Linked DNA regions of Homo sapiens: all the other regions are reported to be linked to region 4. The links are microRNA targets in miRTarBase. Many come from high-throughput screens and were not tested one by one. Region 4 holds a microRNA gene; each other region holds the end of a gene's coding sequence. Distances are from middle to middle.

What was found. Region 4 holds the annotated microRNA hsa-miR-4786-5p (UGAGACCAGGACUGGAUGCACC, at 3,202-3,223, opposite strand). A microRNA usually pairs through its seed, bases 2 to 8, with sites in the 3' UTR of a target mRNA and lowers its output. Matches are read on the target gene's strand: a 7mer-m8 pairs with bases 2 to 8, a 7mer-A1 pairs with bases 2 to 7 and ends in A, and an 8mer does both.
Region 1: the mRNA of TMEM154 is a reported target of hsa-miR-4786-5p. Seed matches in the 3' UTR shown: 7mer-A1 at 1,743-1,749, 8mer at 1,366-1,373 and 7mer-A1 at 473-479.
Region 2: the mRNA of SLC7A6OS is a reported target of hsa-miR-4786-5p. Seed matches in the 3' UTR shown: 7mer-A1 at 3,405-3,411.
Region 3: the mRNA of AGXT is a reported target of hsa-miR-4786-5p. Seed matches in the 3' UTR shown: 7mer-m8 at 3,605-3,611.
Region 5: the mRNA of NCKIPSD is a reported target of hsa-miR-4786-5p. The part of its 3' UTR that is shown has no 7-base or 8-base seed match.

Annotation. Positions count from the first base shown.
Region 1 is chr4:152,624,115-152,629,218 of GRCh38, forward strand. It overlaps TMEM154 (transmembrane protein 154), which reads right to left. Exons shown (of 7, transcript NM_152680.3): 7 at 1-4,447. The coding sequence ends at 4,432. Among named protein-coding and RNA genes, the nearest start is that of TMEM154, 53 kb to the right of the region's middle.
Region 2 is chr16:68,296,510-68,301,613 of GRCh38, reverse strand. It overlaps SLC7A6OS (solute carrier family 7 member 6 opposite strand), which reads left to right. Exons shown (of 5, transcript NM_032178.3): 5 at 209-3,580. The coding sequence ends at 339. SLC7A6 (solute carrier family 7 member 6) reads right to left here. Exons shown (of 11, transcript NM_003983.6): 9 at 5,101-5,104; 10 at 4,804-4,987; 11 at 1-4,380. The coding sequence ends at 4,286. Among named protein-coding and RNA genes, the nearest start is that of SLC7A6OS, 12 kb to the left of the region's middle. RefSeq lists a silencer at 3,334-3,628.
Region 3 is chr2:240,878,238-240,883,333 of GRCh38, reverse strand. AGXT (alanine--glyoxylate aminotransferase) reads right to left here. Exons shown (of 11, transcript NM_000030.3): 11 at 2,834-4,620. The coding sequence ends at 4,513. Among named protein-coding and RNA genes, the nearest start is that of AGXT, 12 kb to the right of the region's middle.
Region 4 is chr2:239,939,862-239,944,965 of GRCh38, forward strand. It overlaps MIR4786 (microRNA 4786), which reads right to left and starts at 3,233; the gene lies at 3,154-3,233. It also overlaps a transcript of NDUFA10 not described here. RefSeq lists an enhancer at 4,924-5,104.
Region 5 is chr3:48,670,450-48,675,553 of GRCh38, forward strand. It overlaps NCKIPSD (NCK interacting protein with SH3 domain), which reads right to left. Exons shown (of 13, transcript NM_016453.4): 13 at 3,395-4,298. The coding sequence ends at 4,095. Among named protein-coding and RNA genes, the nearest start is that of LINC02585, 9.2 kb to the left of the region's middle.

The DNA.
Region 1 (5,104 bases), not on the chromosome of region 4:
TAACATCTTCATGTTTTCTTAAGCACTTTGGTTTAGAAACTTCTTAAAATATCATTCAAAAAGAGCTTAGAGCATGTACAGAGTTCATATAAAGCTCTATTTTACATAATTGTATATACTGCTATCTCAGGAACATGATATGTTATTTAGAAAAGATAGTAGGGCAAAAAAACAAAACACAAGGTCCAGGTACAAATAATTCCAGCCAGTTATGGTGGCTCACACCTGTAATCCCAGGACTTTTGGAGGCTGTGGTGGGAGGATTGCTTGAACCTAGAAGTTCAAAACCAGCCTGAGCAACACGGTGAAACCCTATCTGTACAAAAGATACAAAAAATTAGCCAGTCCTAGTAGTGCACACCAGTAGTCCCAGCTACTTGGGAGGCTGAGGTAATAGAATCACCTGAGCCTGGGAAGTTGAGGCTGCAGTGAGCCATAATCACACCATTGCACTCCAGCCTGGGCATCAGCATGAGACCCCGTCTCAAAAAAAGAAAAATAAAAAAAAACACCCAAAAACTATCCCCAAGAGGACTAAGAAGGAAATAAAACTTTGGTGCCAGACAAGACAGTATCAAGATAAAGCCAAAGAGTTGCTAAAAACAAAAAATAATAATAATTCAGGCAATTGGTTGTCTGGGTTCTGCAATTTGAAATATTCCACTAGACACTAATATACAGGAACTCTTTTGGTCATTGTCACATAGCAGAAATGCTGCTATATGTGAAGTTGTTCTGGACTGCCTGTTATAGCTATTAAATGGAAACCCCAGAATTCATCCTGAATGTCTCTGAATGTGAAAAGTCACATGCGTTAATTTAATTCAGTATAAAATTTCCATGTTCTCCCACAAGGAGGATTTCAGCAGTGTCTTCCCAGCATGAAACCATGTCTTATCACTCCACCAGATTCAGAATTGGTACTAATTCTGACAGAAGCTGAAACTAAAGCCTATGTTTTCTTTAGTCAACATAAGGCCTTTTTTCAGAGATGGTGTGAATTAATAGTTTAAACCACCAAAATAAAAGAATAGACAAGTATTTTCTTAACATATCCATTTCCATTGCTAGAGCTGCGGTGATCAGCAGAAGCATCTGCCTGGCTGTCAATATCAAGGTGGATCCAGGCTGTTGGAACTGGTGGATCCAGGGGTTGGAACGGAGGAATACTAAAAATGAGACTTGGAACTTGGAAGGCCTACACCACGAGGGCCAATTCTGCCATAAGCCCTATTGCCCAGATATGTTACATAAAACATCCAGATATTACAGTGAAAGTCAGTGTGTGGCCAGACACAGTGGCTCACAATTGTAATCCAGCACTTTGGGAGGCCGAGGCTGGTGGATCACTTGAGGTCAGGAGTTTGAGACCAGCCTGACCAACATGGTGAAAACCCCATCTCTACTAAAAATACAAAAATTAGCTGGGCATAGTGACACAGGCCTGTAATCTCAGTTGCTTGGGAGGCTGAGGCAAGAGAATTGCTTGAACCTGGGAGGCGGAGGTTGCAGTGAGCCGAGATCGTGACACTGCACTCTAACCTGGGTGACAGAGTGAGACTCCATCTCAAAAAAAAAAAAAAAAAGTCAGGTGAGAAGAAGTAGCACATAGTGAAAATGAATATAATAATTTTACAGCTGGTCGGGCTCAGTGGCTCATGCCTGTAATCCCAGCACTTTGGGAGGCTGAGACAGGAGGACTGCTTGAGCCCAGGAGTTTGAAACCAGCCTGGGCAACATAGTGAGACCCTGTCTTTAAAAAATAAAATAAAATAATTTTACAGCTTTTGGTTCTCCTGTATTATACAGCATAACTAGGAGAAAAAAAAACTATGAAATTATTTTCCCAAGACCAGTTTTACTCATCTTTATCACATTTGTTTGATGTGGGTTATCCAGGAGCCACCTACATCAAGGTGGATCCAGGCTGTGGTCTTGCATTGGGTAACAAAGCCCTTCCCAGAGGGAGGAGTCACACCATTGGGTCAAGAGTCATGAATGGGTATTTTTACATATTTATTAAAACAAGTTTCCTGAGAAGTTTGACTAGGCTATGTTGTTGTTAACCTAGTTTGCTTAAAATGTACGAAAATGCAATCAAACTTACATATCTTTTAAATATTCGAAAGTCAGATTTTGTTCTGATTGCCCTATCCAATTAGGGCAAATTAGTGAGGGTTTTTTTGGTTTTTGTTTTGTTTTTTTAACAATAGTCTGAAACATAAAATTAAGTTTGGGTTTAAAAACAATTCTTGAAACTGTCATAAACATATGATATCTATTGATTAAACAGTAATAAAAAGACACAAGGTACAAGAATTGAGGCTTGGCTGTTCTGGCTGTATACTAACTTCATATACCCTGACAGAATAAACTATCTTTTTAAAAAGTGCTTTGTACACTGCACAATTATAGCTTTACCAAATAAAAACTCAATGACATGTCGCTGAAATTTGCTTCTTCTAGAATTTGAAATTATTTAAAATACTGCATGAGAATATTTTTATCATATTATATAATATGACTTCATCAACATGAAGTTCCAGGACCCCAGATGCCTCTCTGAGAAGTTCATTATTTGATAGGGTTGGATCAAATGTAAAGGCCCAGGTGTTCAAAGATCTTAGATACCTAAAGAGAGAAAGGGGCAAATGGAGGCTCTTCTGAGAGTCAAAATGTTGATGAGAAACAAACTGAAAGTAGCACACATAGGCAGAAAAATAGACAAGTTATGATTCAGAAAACAATTGTATGCAATTTTGGCATAAATATCTGAGAGTCACTGTGGGCCATGAGTTGAAAAGGAACATGCAAGAGAGCAAGGAAAACACAAAGCCTCATTCAGATGTGCTGGTGAGAATATGACAGAAAATCTGTTGAAGTTGTGTACCATGAAGTCTGTCTTTTGTCAAAGTTCTATGCAGTCCCAGGATAGCGTGATAGCAGTGGTTAAACACAACCAGCTAGTTATAGCTTTCATTGTATGGAAAGACCTCTCTGGTCTGGAACTCTGCCTTTGAAATTATCCACGTAGTTCAGAAGGCAAATACTTGTTAAAGGGATCCCAAAAGGTAGGAGACAAGTAGTTTTTGTTATGCATTAGGGCAGACTTTCAAGCACAAGACACAAAATTGAGCAGCAAATGTTTGGGTAGTCCCATCTCCCTTCGGTTTATATGTGGGTAGTAAAATAAATAAAATTTTCCTTCTTTGTCTCTTTCTTGAAATAAAATATCAGGTATCCAAGGAGAGCTGAGGATTCTCAATTTGCTAGATTGCTTTAAAGGGGTCAGATTTAGAAAATTAAGGAATAAATGAAGAACAATTTTACTGGAGTAGGTGTGGTCAATAGGCCCTTTTCCATTTTGTGCCATTGCTTTTAGCACAAGGATGTCAAAAATATCACATAGAATGTCATCTCTGATGGACTGACAGAGACCTCCTGTTGTGCTGTGTTAGGACATGAGGCTTATCCCAGCTTGGCGGGAGAGAATGCTAAGCATGATGAGTGAGATCTGCCACAGGCACGGATATTTCCTGCTCCTCTTCTGTTTGTTTCAAACCACCTTCAGGATCTCTGAAACATAGAAGGCTGACAGATGACTCCCACCTGCACATACTTCCTACCTACATGTCACATCCAAGGGAGGTATGGTGAAACAAGTGTGAGCTTTGCAGAAATGCTGACAAGCAAGGGAATTTCAGCTGAGGAGAACATTAGTTCTTTCACTGAAGATTCCTAGTTTCTCTGAGAAGTTCTTAAGGGTGACCAGACCTGGCCATGCTAGGGTCTACAAGTTACCAAACGCCACCTCATCAGGACTGTGGACCCCTCTCACTGTGTCTTCTTGGCAGGCAGAGCTTACTGACCCCCTGGGATGGTGTATTCATTAAAATACTTGCTGTGTTTGGTGTCTTTTCCATGACATAACACTCCTCGAGAAAAGTTCCTGCTGAATGTAGTTTACCTGTCCCACGACTTGAATAATCAGAGGAAATTATCCAAAGCTGGTTACTGACCCAAAAGGAAACCATCGATAAAACAGCTTCCTGATTTAGGCCCTAAGGAATGAAGCAGAAAGGTGACGAACATTTATCATGACCAGAGTGAGTTCAGTGAGCTAGAAGTTGGCTGAGAGGAGGCAACACATGTTGATCAGAAGTGAGCACATCACCCGCCTCCTTCTCCACCCTCAGAGGCAGCGATGGATGGCAGCCAGGCCTTTTCCTAGTACTTCTCAATTGCACATTCTTCCAAGTGCAAGTGATGCCATCATTAGGAAGAGTGGGCGTTGGAAGAAACAGCAAAAGGTTCTTGTGTCTATGTTGATTTGAAATTAATTAAATTTGTATCCTCTTCATCCTCTGTTGGCAGCCTCAGCAGACTCCCTCAGGGGCTGCTTCTCTTGGAAAACATGAGCGCCATTCAGGTTTAGGATTCACTGTCACTGTAAAAAAAAAAAAAAAAAAAAAAAAAAACAAAAAAAACACACACACACACACAAAACAGTAATATATTTCTTTCTTTTTTTTTTTTTTTTGAGACGGAGTCTGGCTCCGTCGCCCAGGCTGGAGCGCAGTGGCACAATCTCGGCCCACTGCAAGCTCCACCTCCCAGGTTCAGGTCATTCTCCTGCCTCAGCCTCCTGAGTAGCTGGGACTACAGGCACCCACCACCAAGCCTGGCTAATTTTTTGTATTTTTTTTTTTTTTAGTAGAGGCGGGGTTTCACCATGTTAGCCAGGATGGTCTCGATCTCCTGACCTTGTGATCTGCCCACCTTGACCTCCCAAAGTGCTGGAATTACAGGTGTGAGCCACTGCACCCGGCCAACAGTAACATATCTCTAAGAAGCTAAAGAGAGCTGGTCACTCCATTATGGAGGTGACTGAAGAGATCACAAACCATCAGGAAGCCAATGGTGTCCAGCTTACAATTTCTGAAACGAAGGTCAGTCTAAATTTTATATCTGATCCCTGAGGAAGAAATCCATGAAAGCCAAAAAATAATCCCTAGCTCTTTCTCCTCATAGCCCTCCCCAGTGCTGATGCAGAGAGAACCAGATGGAGTTGGGGGTTCCCCGTTTAATAAATCTAATCCCATTC
Region 2 (5,104 bases), not on the chromosome of region 4:
ATACTCCAGTGTGAAGGAACTTGGTTTAGATGATAGGAAAGTGATTCCTTCTTTAAAAAAAAAAGAATTCTATATTCTTTTTTATTTATTGAGCAAGGATTTTGCATTACAATCGGGAACAAAAACAGACCTTTCTGAGAAGAGAAGGGGCTCCTGCAGTAGCCTAGGAAAATCACATTTAGAATCCACTCCCGGGATGTCATTCTAGGCTCTGCTGACTACAACAGCCTGAGTGAGGAGGAAAGAGGCAGCAGCAGACAGCGGATGTGGAGCAAGTACCCTCTGGATGTGCAGAAGGAGTTCGGCTATGACAGCCCCCACGACCTGGATTCAGACTGATGGTCTTGTGATGTCCATGAGGTTCTGCCACATGCCCTTGAGGGCTCTGAGTCCAGAGTTAACTGCCCTGCTGACATCCTGTTAGGTTTCCTAGCTTAACATGTGGAAGGAAAAGCATATCAAGCATATCGGGCGGCACCATCCCACCACAGTGAAAACTTATGTTAGGGGAGTGAGTCTTTTCCACTTACAGTAGGACCCCTTTGCCTCAATCAAAAGTGACCCTACAGTTTGAAAGAAAAAAAAACGTTGAAAAAAGGAAGGTTTCTTTAGCTTTAGCTTCTTGGCCCAGGAATTTTTCCTGGCATTCAGGTTCTGTGCTGAAACCACAAGGGAGGGGGAGGTTCCCATTTCATTAGCAGTAAGCTTCTGCTGTGCCATACCACCAGGCTGCCTGCCTCTAGGAAAACCCTGTTCCTTTTGATAGAATCTAAAAGGGGTACCAGTGGGTCCCTTGTAGCAATACAGACTGGATAGTAATGGCCATTAGGGCAGAAAGTAGTCTGAGCAGTGGGAGATTTTAGTTAACAGCTATTTCTGCTTCCAAACTCTGATAACGGTTGTGAAATTACTGACTGACTTCCTTTGGCAGTGGGGCCAAGAAACAATATATATGAATGTGATACATGTGTTTAGTAAAATCTAGCTTTGAACATGGAAGAAAGTAATTCTTTGAAAACCTTTTAAATCTGAATATCTAAAACAGGGAGCGGTAGTGAAATAGAAGGTTCAGCATTGATTATAAATACCAAGGACTTAAGGCAAGGGAGGAAAAACAAAGTACCTTCTGAACTTAGCTTTCCACTGAGTAATGTTTACTCTTCACAGCACCCACCACAAAAACAAACTACTATCAACAGGATCAATTTTATTAACAACTTGTATCTCTTCTAAGCAGACTCTGTCCGTATGCCTTTCCAAACCATAGCTGCCTTAACTGACTGCCTTGGTGTTTATTCTAGCGTAACATTGTCCAGTAGAACTATCTGCAGTGATGATATGTTCTGTGTCTGCACTGTGTAGTAGTAGACACGGGTGGCTGCTGAGCACTTGAAATGTGATTAGCGCAACTGAGAAACTGAGCTTTTAATTTTATTTCATTTTAATGTAATTAGCTACACGTGGCTAGTAGCTGTTGCAGCGGACACCACAGGTCTAAGGAAACAACACAGAACATTCAGCTAGGGGTGTACCCTCATAGCCTGTGAGTGTCTCTTACTCACTGTCATGGGGGAAGGTGAGTTACACAGGGAGGTACCTTCTTGCCGCCTCTTTTAGGATTTCCTAAGTATCTCTCCTTCATCCTACCTGCCATCATTCTTTGACTTTATGTCCATTTTCTAAACCTTTGCCTACACTTGCTCTTATCTACATGGAGTTGTTCAACCTGCCGAAGTGATTAAATTCTGTGTACACAGGCCGTATATATTGCAGCTAATTAAAACAACAAACATCCTAGGCATGCACAAAGGTATAATTCACCGTTATAACAGGCAGCAACTTGTATGTCTAATATTAGACATCTTGCTTTCTGTCTGTAGGCATAGAAACAAAGGATTGAAAGCCATTCTCATACAGCAACCGGGTGAAAAAAACAAAACACTGTGCTGTTACAATGTGCTCCCTGCTATTTATACTCATTAAGTTTCCCCAATATTAAAGGGCTGACAACTTAATAAACTGTACTCACTGCAAAAGGGATAATAAGCACACCAGGAAAAGGATTTAAGGAGACAGACAACAAAGAGCTGGCAGAAATTAATTCCACCATGAAGCTTGAGTGCTGTAGGGATCCTCTGGCTTCGCTCCCAAAGAGAGGATCCTGGGAGAAGTCTGTATCCAGCACAGAGGGGAAAAATGCTGTCACCATCCAAAAATGAAAGGAGGATGACATGGCTCACTAAGCAAGTACTAGGGCACCTGGCATGTGAGGTCCTTGCTTTCCCTAGAAGCCACTGGTGGGGGGCAGCAAATTCCTGGGATTAGCTGGTTATCTGGTGGAGAAAGCTAAAGCTGGGGTCAGGGATCTTTAAAAGGCAAGCACATTTTGCTTAAAGGATTAGCTCCAGAGGAGCCCTGGGATGGGTGCCAGCTTAGCTCAGACAGAAGTCATGTTCTTAGCGTTCAGGCAAGTCAGCCTTTGCATAAGACACCCTGTCGTCGGGCAGGAATTTGCCGTTACAAATCCCAAACCCATGACAGTAGGAATGTCACCCCATGCTTCACATATGCATTATGCTCTGAACCCAGGGCAACTATGACCATGCTTCCTTCAATCTTTATTGAGCAAATATATGGCCAAGGTTATTCCCTTATCTGTGACTGGGTGGAGAAGAATGGTCAGGAAGGGAGACTGCCTCACTGTTGACCAATTCCAAAACCTAAGGATAAGCCCATGGGGTATGTCAAGCTAGCAGGTTCTTCTCGGCCCAGGATGACAGTGTCTGGGGGCATCACAAAACAGTTGTACAATCCAATGCAGCCGTCCTGCTCATACAGTAAGATCCATTAGGCCAGAGCAGGCCTAACTTGGGTGGAGAGCCCAGCCTGAGCACCAGAATTAGTTGCTTCCACTTGTGCAGCCTGCTGAAGAGCCGGACTCAGGTTGAAGCAGCTTTCCTCCCAGTCTTCACTGATCTCCACAGGGAGAAAACAGAAGTCCCCACAAGTACCAAGCTCTTCCTGAGACTGCAGCCACCACACCTCGGGGAAGGGGAGGCTGGCAGGAGAGGAGTACACTGTCCCGGTGACCCACACCAAGGTGGCTCCAAGTGTAAACAAAGCCTGGTGCCAGGGACAGAAGAGGATGCAGCCTGATGTGAGGTTTTCAGAAAAGTGAAATGACCTAGCACCAGGTTGGGATTGCTTGGGTCTGCACAGCAGTCCCTCACACTGCCCTTACAGAGAGGAACAGGTTATTTGATGACTTGGGCCCATGAGATGTTCTCCAAGCCATTGACAGCTGAGAGAATTCAGGTGATCCACCTGAATATCAGAAGTTTCAGCCCTCTTAGAGTTCGTAACAGAAACCCAGAGATTTACTGTCAGCTAGAACAAAGATGTAAGGTCTCAAGTAAAATAAAGGATTGTCCTTCAAAACAGCAATATTAACAGACTTCTGACTCAGGAATTTGTTCATCTGTCCTTGCTGGACCTGAGCCAAGTGCTTGTAACGTGATCTATGATCTATCTGTATGCTAAAGTGTAACAGGTACGTGAGTAAAAAAATCTTTAAGGTTCATTGTTGCAGGTAAGACTCAATAGAAATTGTGCTAAACAGCATAAAACCTGTGGTCAGAGTCTGACCCAATACCACAGACATTTCTGAGCCCAAAGGGACTCAGTTTTGGGTACTTTGATTTTTAAATACAATCAGCCTATTGCATCCTGTAGATGAAGAGACACGCATGCTTCGTTAGAACTGGTGTTCTGGACTAAATATCAATAAATAAGGGAATATAACTCTCTCCCCAGGGAAGAATTTTGAGCCAGAGGAAGAAATGGTAGCATTTCAGGCCTTTAAAGTCAGGTGTTGTACCTGGTCAGAGAAAAACTTCCCATAAAGCAGCCCCTCTATAGGGACTCCTAGTTCAAATACCAAATTCAGAAGCCACCAGCCCTATCAACCTAGCATTCCCTCTTCCCCACTGCACTTTACCAAGTAAATATCTGTAAGAGCTGCATCTACCTATCAGGAGTAAAACTAAATGACCATTCCCCCCGTTCCCCAATCTTCCCCCCACCCTCTGAAGCCCCCACCTTGAGGTTGGCCCAGATCCTGAGTCTCCTATAGCTTACCAATAAGAGTGAGCACTGGCCCTGAGCCCCACTATATGATTGGGTCAAAAGGCTCCTTTAATTCAGGAGAGTTGGGCCCACAGAGTCTTGTTATCAGGATTTTGCTGGTTGGCCTGCCTTCCAGGCCTCAGAAAGCCACCTCTGACCTCTAGTCAGTTTTCCTCTCATCCTTTTTTTCTTCGGCTACATCAAGCTCAGTCAGGACACAAAAGCAAAGCTGCTGGGTGCCTCTGGTGATAGCAGCTAAATGAAAATAGAGCAAGCACAGGGTTTAGTAAACATCTAGCTACAGCCCTAACCTGAACAAGGCTGACTAGTAACATCTATGGCTCCCTCGCCACCTGCCCCTTAAGTACCCTATATCAGGCTTTGCCCCTGTCTCCCAACAAGCCTCATCATCCTCTGTCCCATGCCCAACCAGAGTCTGATGCACAACTCATCTTCCCAGGTGATTTGTGTTGTCAGGAGGTAATGTTTTAGCCCCAAAATAGGACACTAAAATTAGAACTAAAGTGATCATGTCAAAATCAAAAGGGAAGTCGTGGACAGCTGGGTCACATGGCCTCCAGCAAATTCTGAGTATGGGGAAGCTGTTAGCCACCCCCCACCTCTGCATGCGCATGCACACATAGCCGCCAGTGAGTAATGGGGCACAGAGAAGCTCACCCAGGACATTCCGAATAAACAATGGCCTCCGGGACTCTGGCAGGTAAACACCCATGAAGTAGAAAGGGACTCCAGAAAGGGCAATCCCGATGCCAATGAGGGAATTAATGGTGTCAGTGAAGAGGGGCACTATCACCAGAAACACGGAGCATATGCAGAACACGATGGGGAAAAACACGCTCAGCTGAAATAGAGGGGGTGAGAGATTAAGTAACGTGGGAAGAGGAAACAGCTCGTGGGCAAGAAGCCACCTTAGGGAGATGGCCCACCCCTCCTAGTCTGGCCAGAGCTGCTGACCTTG
Region 3 (5,096 bases), 940 kb from region 4:
ACCTGAGGATCTGTAGAAGCTCACACCTGACAATGACGAAGACACGTTCATCTCGTGTCCATGGGATAGTCACCGAGACTGCTGCTAGTTTATAAAACAGACTCTCAGTACATGTTCAAAATACTGAAGTCCATATACAGTATGAGCTCTGACCACAACAGACATAAATTTGAAATAAAAAACAAAAATACATTTAGAATATCCACCAAATATCTGAACATTACACAGTATAAGTCTAAATAGTCTGTGGTTCAAAGAATAAATCACAAGGAAATTATAAAATATTTTGATCTGAGTGATTCCAAAAACACCATTGATTAAAATTTGGGAGATGCAGTGAAGAAGGCGCTCAGAGGGAAATGTTTAGCTTTAAATGCTCATACTAGAAAACAAATAAATGTTTAAAATCAATTAAGCTTCTACCATAGGAAGCTAGAAAAAGAGGAGCAAATTAAAACCAAAGGAAGTAAAATAAAAGGAACAATAAGAGTGGAAATCAATACAAAGCAAACAATTGAGAAAATGATGGTAAATGTCGCTTTTTTGGAGAGACTAATAAAATCAGTAACCCCCTAGCAAGACTGATCAATGGGAGAAAAAAAAGGAGAAAATATAAATTACCAATACCAGGAATGAAACAGGGAAATCAATAGAGAGCCCGTAAGCATTAAAGGATAATAAAGGGATATTATGGATGATTTTATGCCAACACATTCAACAACTTGGAATCAAGCATGCTCTGGGTAACACAAATTACCAAAACGGGCACAAAGAGAGAGACAAAAATCTAAAGAACTCTATGTCTATGAAAACATTAGAAGTCATTAAAAAAATCCTTCCCATAAAGAAAGCTCCTGTCCCATAAAGCTTCACTGGACAATTCTACCAAAATATAAGGAAAAAAAAAATAGTCCCTATTCTAGACAAATTTAATTGATAAATAAAGGAAAAGAAAATACTGTCCAAACCACTTTACAAGACCAATGTAACCTTGCTATCAAAACCTGACAAATATATTACGAGAAAATAAGAGGTCAGTCAACAAAACAGCACATCCGTAGAATATAGAAACATAACTTTATGATCATCTCACCATAGGCAGAAAAGGTATTTGACAAAATACAACAGCTGTTAGTGATAAATACCCTCTGCAAACTAGGACAGGTGGGGACTTCCTGCCTGTGAGAGCAGGGCAGCTGCAGAAACCCCACTGCTGCCGTCAGCCTGACGCTGAGACATTAAACACGTCTCCAAGGCGAGAAGGTGCACACTCATCACTGAGATTCAGCACTGTATTTGTGGCCTACACCGTTGCAATGAAGCAAGAAAAAGTACATAAAAGGCAGAAGATGTACAACTCTCATTAGTCACAGAGAGTTTGATTATCTACTTAGAAAATTTAAAGGAATCTACAAAGAAGCTACTAGGCCTTGTGAATTTAGGAAGGTCAGAAGATACAAAATTAATATAGAAAAAAATGAGATTATATATTAAAAAATAAACAACTGGAAATGAAAATTTTCAAATGCCATTTATAACAGCATCAACAAGATCAAACACCTAGGAATAAATCTAACAAAAGATCTACGCCCAAGTGGGCTGTTTCCAGGAGGTTCTACTTGGAGGGAGAAGGGCCGCTGGGGGCCGGGGAGGCTGCCTGGTCCTGCCTCCTGGGCTGGATCAGTGGCTTTCCTGTTCCTGGGTTCCTGGCTTTCCTTAAATAACCCCCTCCCACTTTGCTGTATGTTGAAAACTAGAAACATTGCTGAAAGTAATTTTAAAATACTTACATTTCTGTTTGTGAAATGGAATTTATACTTTATTTCCATTTTCCTTAACTTGATATATAGATTTGGTGCAGTTCCTACCAAAATTTCAGCAAGCTATTCTGAAGAAATAGACAACATGAATCTAAAACGTACACAGAAATTCAAAGGATGTAGAATACAAAAAACCTTTAAAAGGGAGAAAAACATTGGAGGACTTGTTCTTAATTTCAAGAGTTATTGTAAAGCTACAATATTTGCAACAGCATGGGATTGACACGAGGATGCAATGAAACAGAAGAGAGGCTGTAAATAGACCTATGAATGTGTAGTCAACTGATTTTTAACAAAGTTGTCAAGTCAGTTCAATGGGGAAAGGAAAGTCTGTTTAACAAACGTTACTGGAACTGGGATATCAGTATGGATAAAAATGAACCTTGACCCCCTTTCTACACTGTGCACAAAATTAATATGAGGTGTATCATAGACCTAAATACAAAAGCTGACACTGTAAAGTTTCTAGAAGAAAACACAGGAAGATACCGTCCAGACCTCAAAGTAGGCAAAGGTTTCTTAGACAAGATACAAACAGCCCAGACCATAGAAAAAAACTCATTCATAAATACGACTTCACCAAAATTGAAAATACCTGCTCTTTGAAAGACACAATTAAGAAAATGAATAGGTAAGCTGGGTGTGGTGGCTCATGCCTGTAATCCCAGCACTTTGGGAGGCTGAGGTGGGTGGATCACTTGAGGTCAGGAATTTGAGACCAGCCTGGCCAACATGGCAAAACCCCGTCTCTACAAAAAAACACAAAAATTAGCCGGGTGTGGTGGTGCATGCCTGTAATCCCAGCTACTTGGGAGGCTGAGGCAGGAGAATCTCTTGAACCCGGGAGGTGGAGGTTGCAGTGAGCTGAGATCACACCACTGCTCTCCAGCCTGGACGGAGTGAGATTCTTTCTCAAAAAAAAAAAAAAAAAAAAAAAAAGAAAGAAAGAAAAAAGAAAAGAAAATGAACAGGTAAGCCACAGAGAGGGAGGAAATATTCATGCCACACGTATCTGATAGTATCTAGAATATATTTTAAAATGATCACACATTGACAATAAGAAGATAAAAATCCAAATATGAACAAAATATTTGAACTGACACTTTTCAGAAGATCTACAAACGGCCGATAGCTCATGAGAAGTTGCTCAACATCAATAGGCATCAGGGAAATGCAAACTAAAACCAAATCAGACAGGATTTTACACCCCCTAGCAAAAAAAGACAACATGGAGTGTGGGTGAGGACGTGGAGCACCCTGGACGCTGTAGCTGCGGGAATGAAACATGGAAGAGCCACTTCGGAGAATTTCGTGGCAGTCTCGTATAAGGTTAAGCCTATTGTATGACCCTGCAATTCCACTCCTAGTTATTTATCCAAGAAAAATGAAAATATATGGCCACACGAAGGCTTGAGTAAGAATTTCACTACCTCCGTATTCATAACAGCCCCAAAATAGAAATAACCCAGATGCTCAACTATGGTGATGAACCAACAAATCATGAGGTGTCCATATGACGGGACGGCACTCAGCAACAAGACACACCGGCGCCCACGACGCACGTCCATATGACGGGACGGCACTCAGCAACAAAGACACACCGGCGCCCACGACGGTACATGTGAGTGTCAAAAACAGTAAGTGAAAGAAGCTGGCACAGTGGAGGACCTGCTGTGTGTTCCACTGACCATGAAATTCAACTATGGCTGGGCACAGTGGCTCACGCTTGTAATCCCAGCACTTTGGGAGGCCGAGGCAGGTGGATCACTTGAGGTCAGGAGTTCGAGACCAGCCTGGCCAATATAGTGAAACCCCATCTGTACTAAAAATACAAAAATTAGCCGGGCATGGTGGTGCACACCTGTAGTCCCAGCTAATCCGGAGCCTGAGGCAGGAGAATCGCTTGAACCCGGGAGGCGGAGGTTGTAGTGAGCTGAGATCGTGCCACTGCACTCCAGCCTGGGCAACAAGAGTGAAACTCCGTTTCAAAATAAATAAATAAATTCAAATATGCCAGGCTGATCTATGGTCACAGAAGTCAGGCAGTTGAGGGGTGGGCACTGGCTGGATGGGAGCATAGGGGACCTTCCATTGGAGGCTTCCACGTGTCATGGGCTCAGGTCCTGGCTGTGCGCTCTCCAGCACGCAGGTACCCTTGTCCATGACAGGGGTCTCCAACCAGCCCTGTGCGCCGTGTGGGTTCACCTGGATGTGGTGCGTGAGGACGTTTGGGGGTGTGACATCTGGGGCTAGAGTGTGGTGACAGCACCTCCTCCAGGGGAGGATCTACCCTGTGGGCTCCAGGATGAGGAGTGTCCCCCTAAAGTCCACAATCAGGCAGCTCAGGGAGCAGAGATGCTCTCCTCTCACTCTTTCACAGACCACCCCACACAGTGAGGAGAGTTGGCCAGGCCCTTTATTAAACATTCCCGGGAGGCTCATGGCCTGGGGACTGCAGCTCATTTGGAAGGCACTGGGTTTTGCGCCCAAGTGGACTGTTTCCAGGAGGTGCCACTGGAGGGAAAAGGGCTGCCTGGGGCCAGGGAGGCTGCCTGGTTCTGCCTCCCGGGCTGGGTCAGTGGCTTTCCTGTCCCCAGGCCTGGAGGACCTTGCAGGGTCTGTTTGCTCCTGATCCCTCAGGGTGGGCATGGGACAGGTGTGTGCCAGTGCCAGCTGTGTGCCAGTGGGCAGGTCACAGCTTCTTCTTGGGGCAGTGCTGCAGGGCCGCCCTCAGGGCCTCCGTCACGCGGTCCACATTCTCGCGGGTGGCATTGCAGCCCAGCAGGCCGATCCGCAGCACCTGGGGGGCACAGGGCGGGCTGACGTCAGCCTCCCGCCTGGGACCTGCCTGACCCTGACCGACAGCTGGCCAGAGCCAGGATGGGCTCACCTGAGTGAGGACCACCCACCCAGCGTCCATGAGGGGAGTTGACAGCCCTGTGCAGGTCACAGAGGGGGCCCTTGAGCACCCAGGCCAGGGCAGGCTCTCCTCCCTCTGCACCCGCAGCCACACGGGAGGACAGGGTGGTGCAGTGAAGGTCCCTCCCCACTGCCACTCAGAGACACAGCCAGGCCCAGGCGTGGGGCTTCCGGCCTGGTTCCAGGGTCTGGTCAGAGGGAAGGAAGGATGTTCCGAGTGGAATCATAAAGGCTGCACCTGGTGACCTCAGTGGGCTGGGGTGGGAGCAGGGGCGACAGGATACGCTTTACTGGATACCCCTTGGAGAGTGGGCCCTTCTGGACGCTCCTGCAATCTGGGCTTTCGGATGACCCCGG
Region 4 (5,104 bases):
CCTGGAACCGGCTGCAGTGCAGGCCAAGCTGCGATTCCATGGGGCAGCCAGCCCTACTCAGTCAGGGCTGACCAGGAGAGGCCTGGCAACAAGTCTGCCCAGGCTTGGCAGCTCAGCCCGGGGAAGGGTCATGTCTTGCTCAGGTGTCTGGTGTGACTTGGGGGTAGGCTCTGCTTCCCACCGCCTCTGAGGAACCCAGGCGGCTGAAAGCTCCACCATCCACAACAGGGGTTGGCAAACTTTCTGTAAAGGGTTGGAGGGTAAAGACATCACATCCGGCTTTGCAGGCCATACAGCCTCTGTTACAAATACTCAACTCCAGGCAAAACCAGCCACAGATGACACGTCACAGCTGTGTTCCAATAAAGTTTTATTTACAAAAACAGGTGGTGAGTGGGATGTGGCCCCCGGGCCAGTTTGCCAGCCCTGAGCTAAAACACTGGCAGTCACTGTGGCAAGGGAAGAGAGTGTGTGGCATAAGGATCTCACCATAGCTTATCATTGCTTTGGCCCACTAATGACACTGTCACGGCTATTCCCAGCCTGGGGACAGAATGAGCCACATTGCTGGAAGTACGCTCTGAGTTTCCAGAAGGAGGCAAGGATTGAATATTGATGAACATCAGTAATGCCCAGCACATCCAGCAATGCTATTCTTTGATAAATTTCTCCAAGTAAATTTCTACACAGATCCATAAGGAGATATGTGTGTTAAAAGCTAATTTTCAGAAAAAAAGTAAAATCATGACTCTCATAGAAATATAAAAAGGAACACATTTGAAATTTAGTCTATTCACTTATCAAGGAAGGTATCAGACAGATGTTATCACCAGTTCAAAACAGAATCCAAAGAATAGCCACACTTAGAGATCAGAGATATTTAAATCAATATGCAAGTGAAGGCAAACCGGGCTCTCTCCTGGGGATGGGAGGTATTCACTGGATTTCCACTATACAGCACAGAACATTCCCGTCTATATGAATTCTTTTGTACTGCTATCAGTGACCTACAAGGAACAGAGTTATAAGATAGTTCTAAATGATGACAGAGTAGAATCCAATAACCTTGAGGAGTGTCCTCTAGGCAATGCACAGTTTTCTGTGAACCACAGATATTCTTCTCCATGTGTGAGGTTCTTCCTGCAGCACTGCAGGCCGTCTGGGTACCCACCACCCAGGAAGGGTAAGCGAAACTGGACAGCAGCAAGGTCACTACAAGGTGCAGAAACAGGCAAGCCAGATGCACCCACGGCAACAAGGAAGGAGCTTACAGAGGCAGTGTTGAGTGAAAACACACAGGCAATAGACGTATGACCCATAACCATTTACGTTCCTTAAAAATGCAAACACACGAAACAACACATTATGTCAGAACATATGCAAACAAAAAGATCTCTCAAGCACAGGGAATGCTGGCCTCCCTGGACAAGGGCAATGGGAGTGGCACATAGGGTAAAGTATCTTCACAAACAGGGACAGACACTTCCCACGCCCGATGATGTGAATGCACCGGGGGCACAGAACTGCGGCTGTTCCACCCTCGGTGTCAGAGGTTCCTTCCTCGACATCAAAACGACAAAGTTCAAGGACGTGGTGGCTCACACCTATAATCCCAGCACTTTGGAAGGCCAAGGCGGGCAGATCACCTGAGGTCGGGAGTTGGAGACCAGACTGGCCAATATGGTAAAACTCCATCTCTACTAAAAATACAAAAATTAGCTGGGCATGATGGCGCACGTTTGTAATCCCAGCTTCTCAGGAGGCTGAGGTGGGAAAATGATTGAACCTGAGAGGCGGAGCTTGCAGGGAGCCAAGATCGCACCACTGCACTCCAGCCTGGGCAACAGAGTAAGACTCTGTCTCAAAAAAAAAAAAAGAAAAAAAGGTTCAAGGAAGAAAGGAAAAAAAATTCCAAATTCCTCTCTTCAGAAAAACCATCTACATCAGTGAACAACATCCTGATATTTTTATGCCTGTATATCAACAGAAACACAGGTATGCTTTCATGAAATGGGATCTATCAATGCTATTTTAAATTACATTTAATTTATTTTAATATCAGTTTTCAACATAAGCAAATGAAAGTAAAACTAGTGAATTTTCTGCACCAAAACAGTATGGACCTTAGATTTTAAAATCCTCTGAAATGAGAAAAACAAATGGATTCTGCATATTGAAAGATCACACCATGTGTGCACAAACTATTTCACTTGGAATCACTTTGGTCTGAACACCAGTGATTCTTTTGCCGGACTGCCTTTGTCCACCTTCCTATAAATTAGTTTTACATATACAAAGTTCACAACAGTTTTCATCCCTCTACCACGTTTACCTTTACTTACTGTGGCTGTCTTCAGCCTTTCCTCTAGGGCAGCGGTGTTCACGCGGTAGTGTGCGCTGCAATCACCTTGCTAAACACAGATGCTGCTGGGGCCCACCCACCAGGGCGCCTGAGCCAGCAGGCCTGGGTGCAGCCTAGACACCTGCATTTCCGACAAGCTCCCAGGTGGAGGCTGGGGCCGCTGGTCCAGGAGCCACACTTGGAGAACGATGGATTTCTGTCAATAGCAATTTCAGCCTTGCTATGTCGTTTGTTGCTGTTTGAAATGTATTGGTTTGGTTCTGACACTGTTTCGGTTCTGTTTGCTTCCTGAGGTCTGACATCTTATTTTCATTTCTTAGTCTTATACGTTGTTGACATTTATTTTATTGAATTCATGTTCTTATCAAACTGTTCTCTTAGGCAAAGCACAGGAATATTTTTTTTTTCTGTTCACGAGCTGTGCGTCCTCTGCCTTCCGCATGTTTATCTTGCGCATGCTGTGGTCCCTTCTCCAGCACTGAGTCACGGGTTTCTCTGTGGGACGTTTGCCTGTCACTTGCCCTCCCCTTCCCTGCCTTTCCATTCTCTTCAAGCCCGAGCAGCTCTGACTGGGTCCTCATATGTTTTAACACAGCACTGGAGGGGTTTTAACTCTTTCCACAAAACCTGGCAAAGGCTCGTCTTCCCCTCTTAGCCACAGGAAGCCCAGGCAGTTTGTGTTCAGGCCACCTTCGGGAAGCCTGCAAGGATGGTGGTGGCAGGAGGAGCTCAGCCGAAGTGGAAGAAGGTTCGTTCAAATGCTGAGGCTCTGCTCCTGCTTCTGGAATCCTGTGAAATGGCCCAGACCAGAGCTGGCTTCACCTCATCACAGGGAGAGTGGTGCATCCAGTCCTGGTCTCAGGCCATGCCCACAGGCCAACGCATCCCTGGAGCCTCCACTTCTTACGGAGAGTTTCAACTCACAGTTATCTTCCCATGTCTGCCAGAGGCATTGCAAGACTCCCTGTCTCCAGATCCCAAGCACAGAGGCGGCCTGGGGCTCCGCTTGTGTACCAGTGGGACTCAGGCTTGGTGGCAGGTCAGAGCCACACGAATCTGCCTTCTGCTCTACTCTGAAATCTTTTGCTTATTTTATTGGCTACTAATTTTTCTTTCTTTTTTTTTGAGATGGGGTCTCACAGTGCCACACAGGCTGGATGGAGTGCAGTGGCGCAATCAGAGCTCACTGCAGCCCCAATTTCCTGGGCTCAAGTGATCCTCCCGCCTCAGCCTCCCAAAGTGTTGGGATTACAGGCGTGAGCCACTACACCTGGTCTTTGGCTACAAATTTTCAAAGTGTATGGCCTTGTTTGTTTTCTGCTGGGATTATTTTTCTAGTTTTTCCTTTCTATTCTGTTAGGGACTGGGGGCAGGACACTGTGATTCCGCTTAATCCTGCTGTCTTTGACATTTTTTTAATGTCCATGAGCAGGGACAAATCTTAGTCTCATAAGAATGTGCCTGATTTGGGAAGCAGGCCTCACTCAGCACCGACCGCCCCTCCTGGCACAGCACTGGCATCCCCTGGTGTTCCATAAACACAGAGACTGAGAGATGAGCAGACGAGTATGGGCCCTGGATGCTCCCTGCAGCCCCTCTGCAGAGCTGGACCTGCAGTCCAAGACTCCTTGGGGATGAGGGGTCTAGGGTTTAGTCCCTGTCCCTGGACAGTGATGGAGCTAAAGGCATGGGGCAGCGTCTGTCCCTTTTATGGGGGGAAGCTGAGGCTGCTGGGGGCAGTGCCTGTCCCGAGATGTCCCCAGACTCAGGTGCTCTGCTCCTTCCTTCCCATAAATCCTGGGCCTCCCCTGTGTCCTAAGGGCCTGCGGCCACCTGGCTAGTCCTGTTGCTGGTCCTCCTCCAGGTGCAGGGCACCGGTGCCCGCAAAATGAGCCACCCTGCCCCTGACCACTGCAGCCAGGCCCCTGAGAGGAGGCACATGACTCAGCCCACCCCCTCCTGGCATTGTTATCCTCCTGCCAAGATCCTGAGGCCATGCCAGAAAGGACCTGGGGCCAGCCTAGACCTTTCCATCATTTCACGTAGGCAGCAGCCTTGCCAAAGTCCCCGGGGGCAGAGCGGCTGTTTGGGTCTGGCGTCTGCTCCAGCCTGGCGTCCCCCATGCTGAGTGTGGCCCCAGGGCCAGCGCCGCAGGCTGAGATCCCAAGGCTGCATCTCTGGCTCGGACCTCTGGTCACGGCTCAGGCTGGGTGCCTGGCTGGCCACCTCCCCTCACAGTGCTGTCAGACTCTCAGTGAGCTCATGGCGGGAAATGATTACCTTTCCATGTGAATTCAGGCCGGGTCTGGACAAGTGAGGAGGTGCACTTTCCTCCACATCTGTTTGAAAGTGATTTTCTTCATGGAACTGGCAGCGCGGATCAAGAAAAATGACTCAGAACCGACAAAAACTCCAGGTCTTCCAAGGAAACAAAATCAAACACCAGTGTGCCTAATGGAAGCCTCTGGCAGCCTGGAGAGTGCAGCTCGACAGCCCCTGGTGGTCCCAGGGCCTCTGCTCGCTCGTTAGCCAGGGTTTCCAGCTCAAGGAGCAAGCTCTGTCCACGCCCAGAGCCACCTGCCCCTGTCCCCAGAGCCTTGGGGCCATAGTAACTTTGGAGGAAACTGGTCCCCAAAGCTCGGCCAACCCGCCACCATCCGCAATAGAAGGCAAAGGCTGCAGGACCACCCTAGGTGGGGGGCACACTGGCCCTCCCAGGCTGCACCCCGCGCCCAGAGCTCA
Region 5 (5,104 bases), not on the chromosome of region 4:
TGGGAGGCCAAGGAGGGTGGATCACCCGAAGTCAGGAGTTTAAGACCAGCCTGGCCAACAAGGAGAAACCTTGTCTCTACTAAAAATACAAAAATTAGCTGGGTGTGGTGGCGCACGCCTGTAATCCCAGCTACTCAGGAGGCTGAGACAGAATTACTTGACCCCTCATCCTGGGGTTGGCCTTATGCATGTGCAGCTTATGGCTCAGCACATATGCCAAAGACACGGTGCCAGCACTTTTTTTTTTTTTTTTGAGTTGGGGTCTCACTCTCACCCAGGCTGGAGTGCAGTGGTGCAATTGCTCCTGAGCATAAGTGATTCTTCCACCTCAGCCTCCCGAGTAGCTAGGACTACAGGTGTGGGCCACCACGCCCAGCTAATTTTTGTATTTTTTGTAGGGATGGGGTCTTCCTATGCTGTCCAGGTTGGTCTCAAACTCCTGGGCTCAAGCGATTTTCCCTCTACGGCCTCCCAAAGTGCTAGGATTACAGGTGTGAGCCACCTGCACACTTACACACCCATTCCTAGCTGCAGCTTCAGAAACTTCTGACCCAGGAAGTCAGCCCAAACCCCCTCACTGTCCCCCAAAATTTGAGTTCTTCTCAACTCTACCCAAACACTCCCCTTTCTTGGGGTGGCTTAATGCTCTGTCTCATTGCCCTTCCTACTGCCTACCCACATATCACATCTACCAACCTTCCACGCAGCCATAGACGTGTTCTATCAAAGACAGTTCCCTCCCCAAGAGGACTTCTCTGACTAATCATAATCTGCCTTTGGTTGTAATTTTGTGTTGTGAGGCCACCACAAGGGTGTTTGCTGAAGAGGTCCTGGAGTCCCCTCAGAGCACGCTTGCTACCAGGAGTCAGCATGTATGTAACTTCATCAGCTGGGGCTTCTGCTTCTCTTACAAACAGGTGCCAGGGCCCACCTTGGGCACTCCTGCAGAAGTGAGCAGAGGCTTCTGCCATGGGGCCATACCTTGTTTGACCTAGGTGCCAGCACTGGGACAGATGGCACAGCACAGTCCTGCCGTTCCCACAGGGTTTGTGTGTGCATCATGACAGGAAACACAGCAAGTCACAAAGGCTGTCCGATGTCCCTGCCTCAGCTTCCTGAGGACCTGTGCTTTTTACTGAAATACACTATCTCATAAGAATACTTCCCTGCCTTCCGCACCCCAGTGAGAAAGGAGTTGTGACTGGAAGTCAGTGTCATTGACTTTGGATATGAAAAGGAGGCAGAATGTCTCCAGGGTTAAAAGTAGTAACCAGGCCAGGCGTGGTGGCTTATGCGTGTAATCCCAGCATTTTGGGAGGCGGAGGTGAGTGGGTCACCTGAGGTCAGGAGTTCAAGACCAGCCGGGCCAACATGGCGAAATCCCATCTGTACTGAAAATACAGGAATTAGCCGGGTGTGGTGGCAGGCGCCTGTAATACCAGCTACTGGGGAGGCTGAGGCAGGAAGAATTGCTTGAACCCAGGAGGTTAAGGGTTGCAGTGAGCCAAGATCACACCACTGCACTCCAGCCTGGGTGACAGAACACGATTCCATCTGAAAAAAAAAAAAAAAAAAAAAAGCGGGGGCTGGGCGCGGTGGCTCACACCTGTAATCCCAGCACTTTGGGAGCCTGAGACAGGTGGATCGTCTGAGATCAGGAGTTCGAGACCAGCCTGACCAACATGGTGAAACCCCGTCTCTACTAAAAATACAAAAATTAGCTGGATGTGGTGGTGGGCACCTGTAATCCCAGCTATTCGGGAAGCTGAGGCAGAGGAATCATCGCTTGAACCTGGGAGGTAGAGGTTGCAGTGAGCCGAGATCACACCATTGCATTCCAGCCTGGGTGACAAGAGCAAAACTCCGTCTCAAAAAGAAAAAAAAAAAAAGTTAGTAACCAGGTTGTGTCCCACAGAGCTTTACTGGGGGCCAAACACTGTCAACCCCTCCTCAGGTCCCAGTGAGTTTGTGCACCTGGCCTTCTGACAGTAAGCGGTGAGCAGGGCATCCCCCACCAGGACCCCATACTTTCCTCCCATGGGTTTCCTATGGAATGTTGCTGCTTCAACTTCTGAGAGCCTCTTGCTGGGGGGCCCCATCCCTAGCCCTTGCCTCCCTGTGCTGCTTTACCTTCTTTTTGGGAGGATAACTGCCCTCTGTTTTCAGCACCCCAATAAGAAAGAAAAAGTCATGACCAGAAGTCAGTGTCAGTGATTGCTGATGTGTGGAAACATCTGATGAATGAAGAGTTTGGGTAAAAAATAAAGGGAACTGATGAAAACCACTTGTGTGTGAAGCCTATATAGTGGTGTGTGCCTGTAGTCCCAGCTACTCGGGAAGCTGAAGTGGGAGGACTGCTTGAGCACAGGAGTTGGACATCAGCCTTGAAAAGATAGTGAGACTCAATCTAGAAAACAGAAACAACACTTCTGACTGGTGTCTGCCTGTGGGTTTCTGACTCTGCTCCCAAACTTATGGTGAGAACTTCTTTGCTAACTTGAGAGTCTGCAAGAGTGAAGTTTTTGCCAAATTTTGGCCCTTAGTTCCTCTAAAACACTAATGGAAACGTAACCCCATGCTTGTTAAGACCCTCCTTCTGCCCTACCATGATTACCAGATCTCTGCTGAGGTTGCAAGATGAGGTGATCTTGCTGGAAACAAGGACAAATGGGGGAAGAAAATAGGGCTGGACAGGCCCAAGCATTCAGAGGCCAGGGCTGGGGGTAGGTAGGGGCCTGCTTCATTTGAGAACAACTATGAAGGACAATAGGGTTTCAACAGGGGAGAGAGTAGCGGTATTCAAAGCAAAGCAAAAGATGTAAGTGAAAGATGTAAGCGGGCCGGTGCGATGGGTCACGCCTATAATCCCCGTACTTTGGGAGGCCAAGGCAGGAGGATCACCGGAACTGAGGTGTTTGAGACCTGCTTGAGCAACATAGTAGGACCCTGTCTCTACCAAAAAAAAAAAAAAAAATTAAATTAGCTGGGCATGGTGGCTACTGTAGTTTCAGCTACTCAGGAGGCTGAGGCAGGAGGATCACTTGAGCCTGGGAGGTCAAGGCTACAGTGAGCCTGGGTAACAGAGTGAGACTGTCTCAAAAAAAAAAAAAAGGAGAAAAAGAAAGATGTAAGTGTGTAAGTGAAGCCTGGAGATGCAGACACCTGCGAATGGGCTGCTGAGGGGCACTTGGCTATGGCTGGGGCTCAGGAAAAGTGGAGCTCAGGGAAGAGAGGCTAGAACAGGGCTCAAAGGGCCTTGAAGGCCAGGCCTGTCAGGGTCCATCACCTCCTCAGGCTGGAGAAGTCAGTGCAAGCTGCAGTGATGGGGTCCTGAGGCCCCAGTACTTCTGCCCATCCTCTCCCACTGTCTCCCAAGATCATACAGGGAAGCCTGTTTCCAGATGCCTGTGATTTATTTCCAAAGGAGAGCTACAGCACATAGGAAAATACACATGGCTTTTCAGTCTACATTTTTACAGAGAAAAGAGATTCGGTCATTGGCTTTCTCAGTGCCATCATCCTGTTCCATGAGGCTCCAGGATGGATGGCCTGTCTCCAAGATCCCGCTTTCAAAGCAGCAGCTTGGCCAAGGCCTCTGGGGGTAGGAGTGAAGGGCAGCGACCCCCATGTGCGGGTGGAGGGGAGGACATGAGCAGCACTCACTGCAAAGCTAAGGCAAAGAATAGAGCTGGTGGGAGATGCCTCCCCTCACCCCAGGGGCATGGCTTGCTGAGGCCCAGGATACAGACCAGGAGGGGTGGGGATGGGGGTCTGGTCCAGCCTGGAGCGGCAGCAGGACTCTGAGTGTACACATGGGTGTGGGGTGAAGAGGGGGGCATGCTGAAGAGGAAGCCTACCAGGGTATAGAGGGGCTTTAGCTTGCATATTCCCCCTGCCCCAGAACAGCTCCCAGACCATGGTCCCCAATCCTACACTTGGCCCCTCTCTTAAGTTCTACTTCAGGTGGGGGTCCTGCTCAGGTTCCTTCTGCCACCTTATCCCCTCCCACTGTCAGTGCAAAACATTCTTAGGGCCAAGCCCCTGAGTCCCCTGCACACTGACTGGAGCTGCAGGGAAGGGAGGACAGCAAGGTGCTAGCTGGGAGCCTCCCCCAGCACCAGGAATTCCTTGCACATCTCTCGGACAATCATGCGGTCCATCTGGCACTGGGGTGAGGTCTCCTCCTCATTCAGGATGCGTCGCAGTATGGCCTGCAGGTCGGGTAGCCGGTGGCGGTGCTGCAGGTAGGGTGTGGTGCGGACTATAGCATGCATCAGGGAGAGGTACTCCATGCGCAGCTGTGGGAAGAGCAGGCCAGCTCAGGGACCCCAGGGAGGTACTGCAACCACCACTGGACAGGGACAGGACCCCACTGTCCCACAGACCCCAGGGCTGTGGACCTGAACATCAGGGCTGCATCCCCAGCACCCACAATATACCTGGCACAGAATTGGTCTTCAATAGTTTTTGAGTAAGCGAATAAACGAATCATCCCAGCCACAGACAGCCCCAAGTATGTGGCCTGCCCAGGGAAGTCCTGCCCATCCTTTGAAGCTGGGTCTCTCAAGGTGCCTCTGTCTATCAGTCAGAGGCCCTCTGCTTCTCACCCTATCCTCTCTTACCCTGGAAGACCTCGTGCACATTCACAGCTTCAAATAGTGAACCACTCTCATACCTCTTACCTAGAACTCCCCTGTGAGCTCCAGACAAGAATATTCAACTGCCCACTTGACATCTCCTGCACATGTGACAGACCTCAAATCCACATATCTACCACCAAACTCATGATCTTTCCCATCCTCCCAGAGTTGAAGGTTTTCTCATGTTCTTACCTTTAGAAAGAGCACTGTTGCCGATTCAAAAGCACAGGCCTGAAATATGGTGTCCTCTTTGCTTCTTGTCTCCCACATACCTCATATCCAAGCCATGTCTAAGACCTGGCCATCCTACCTCCTACATATGCCCCAAATTCATCTCCAACAGCCTCTCCTCCAACCTATACTCCCAACACCTCTGGCTGAACCAGTTCCAACAGCCCTTATGATCTATATATATATATCATATATATATATATATATGATATATATATATATATATCATTTTT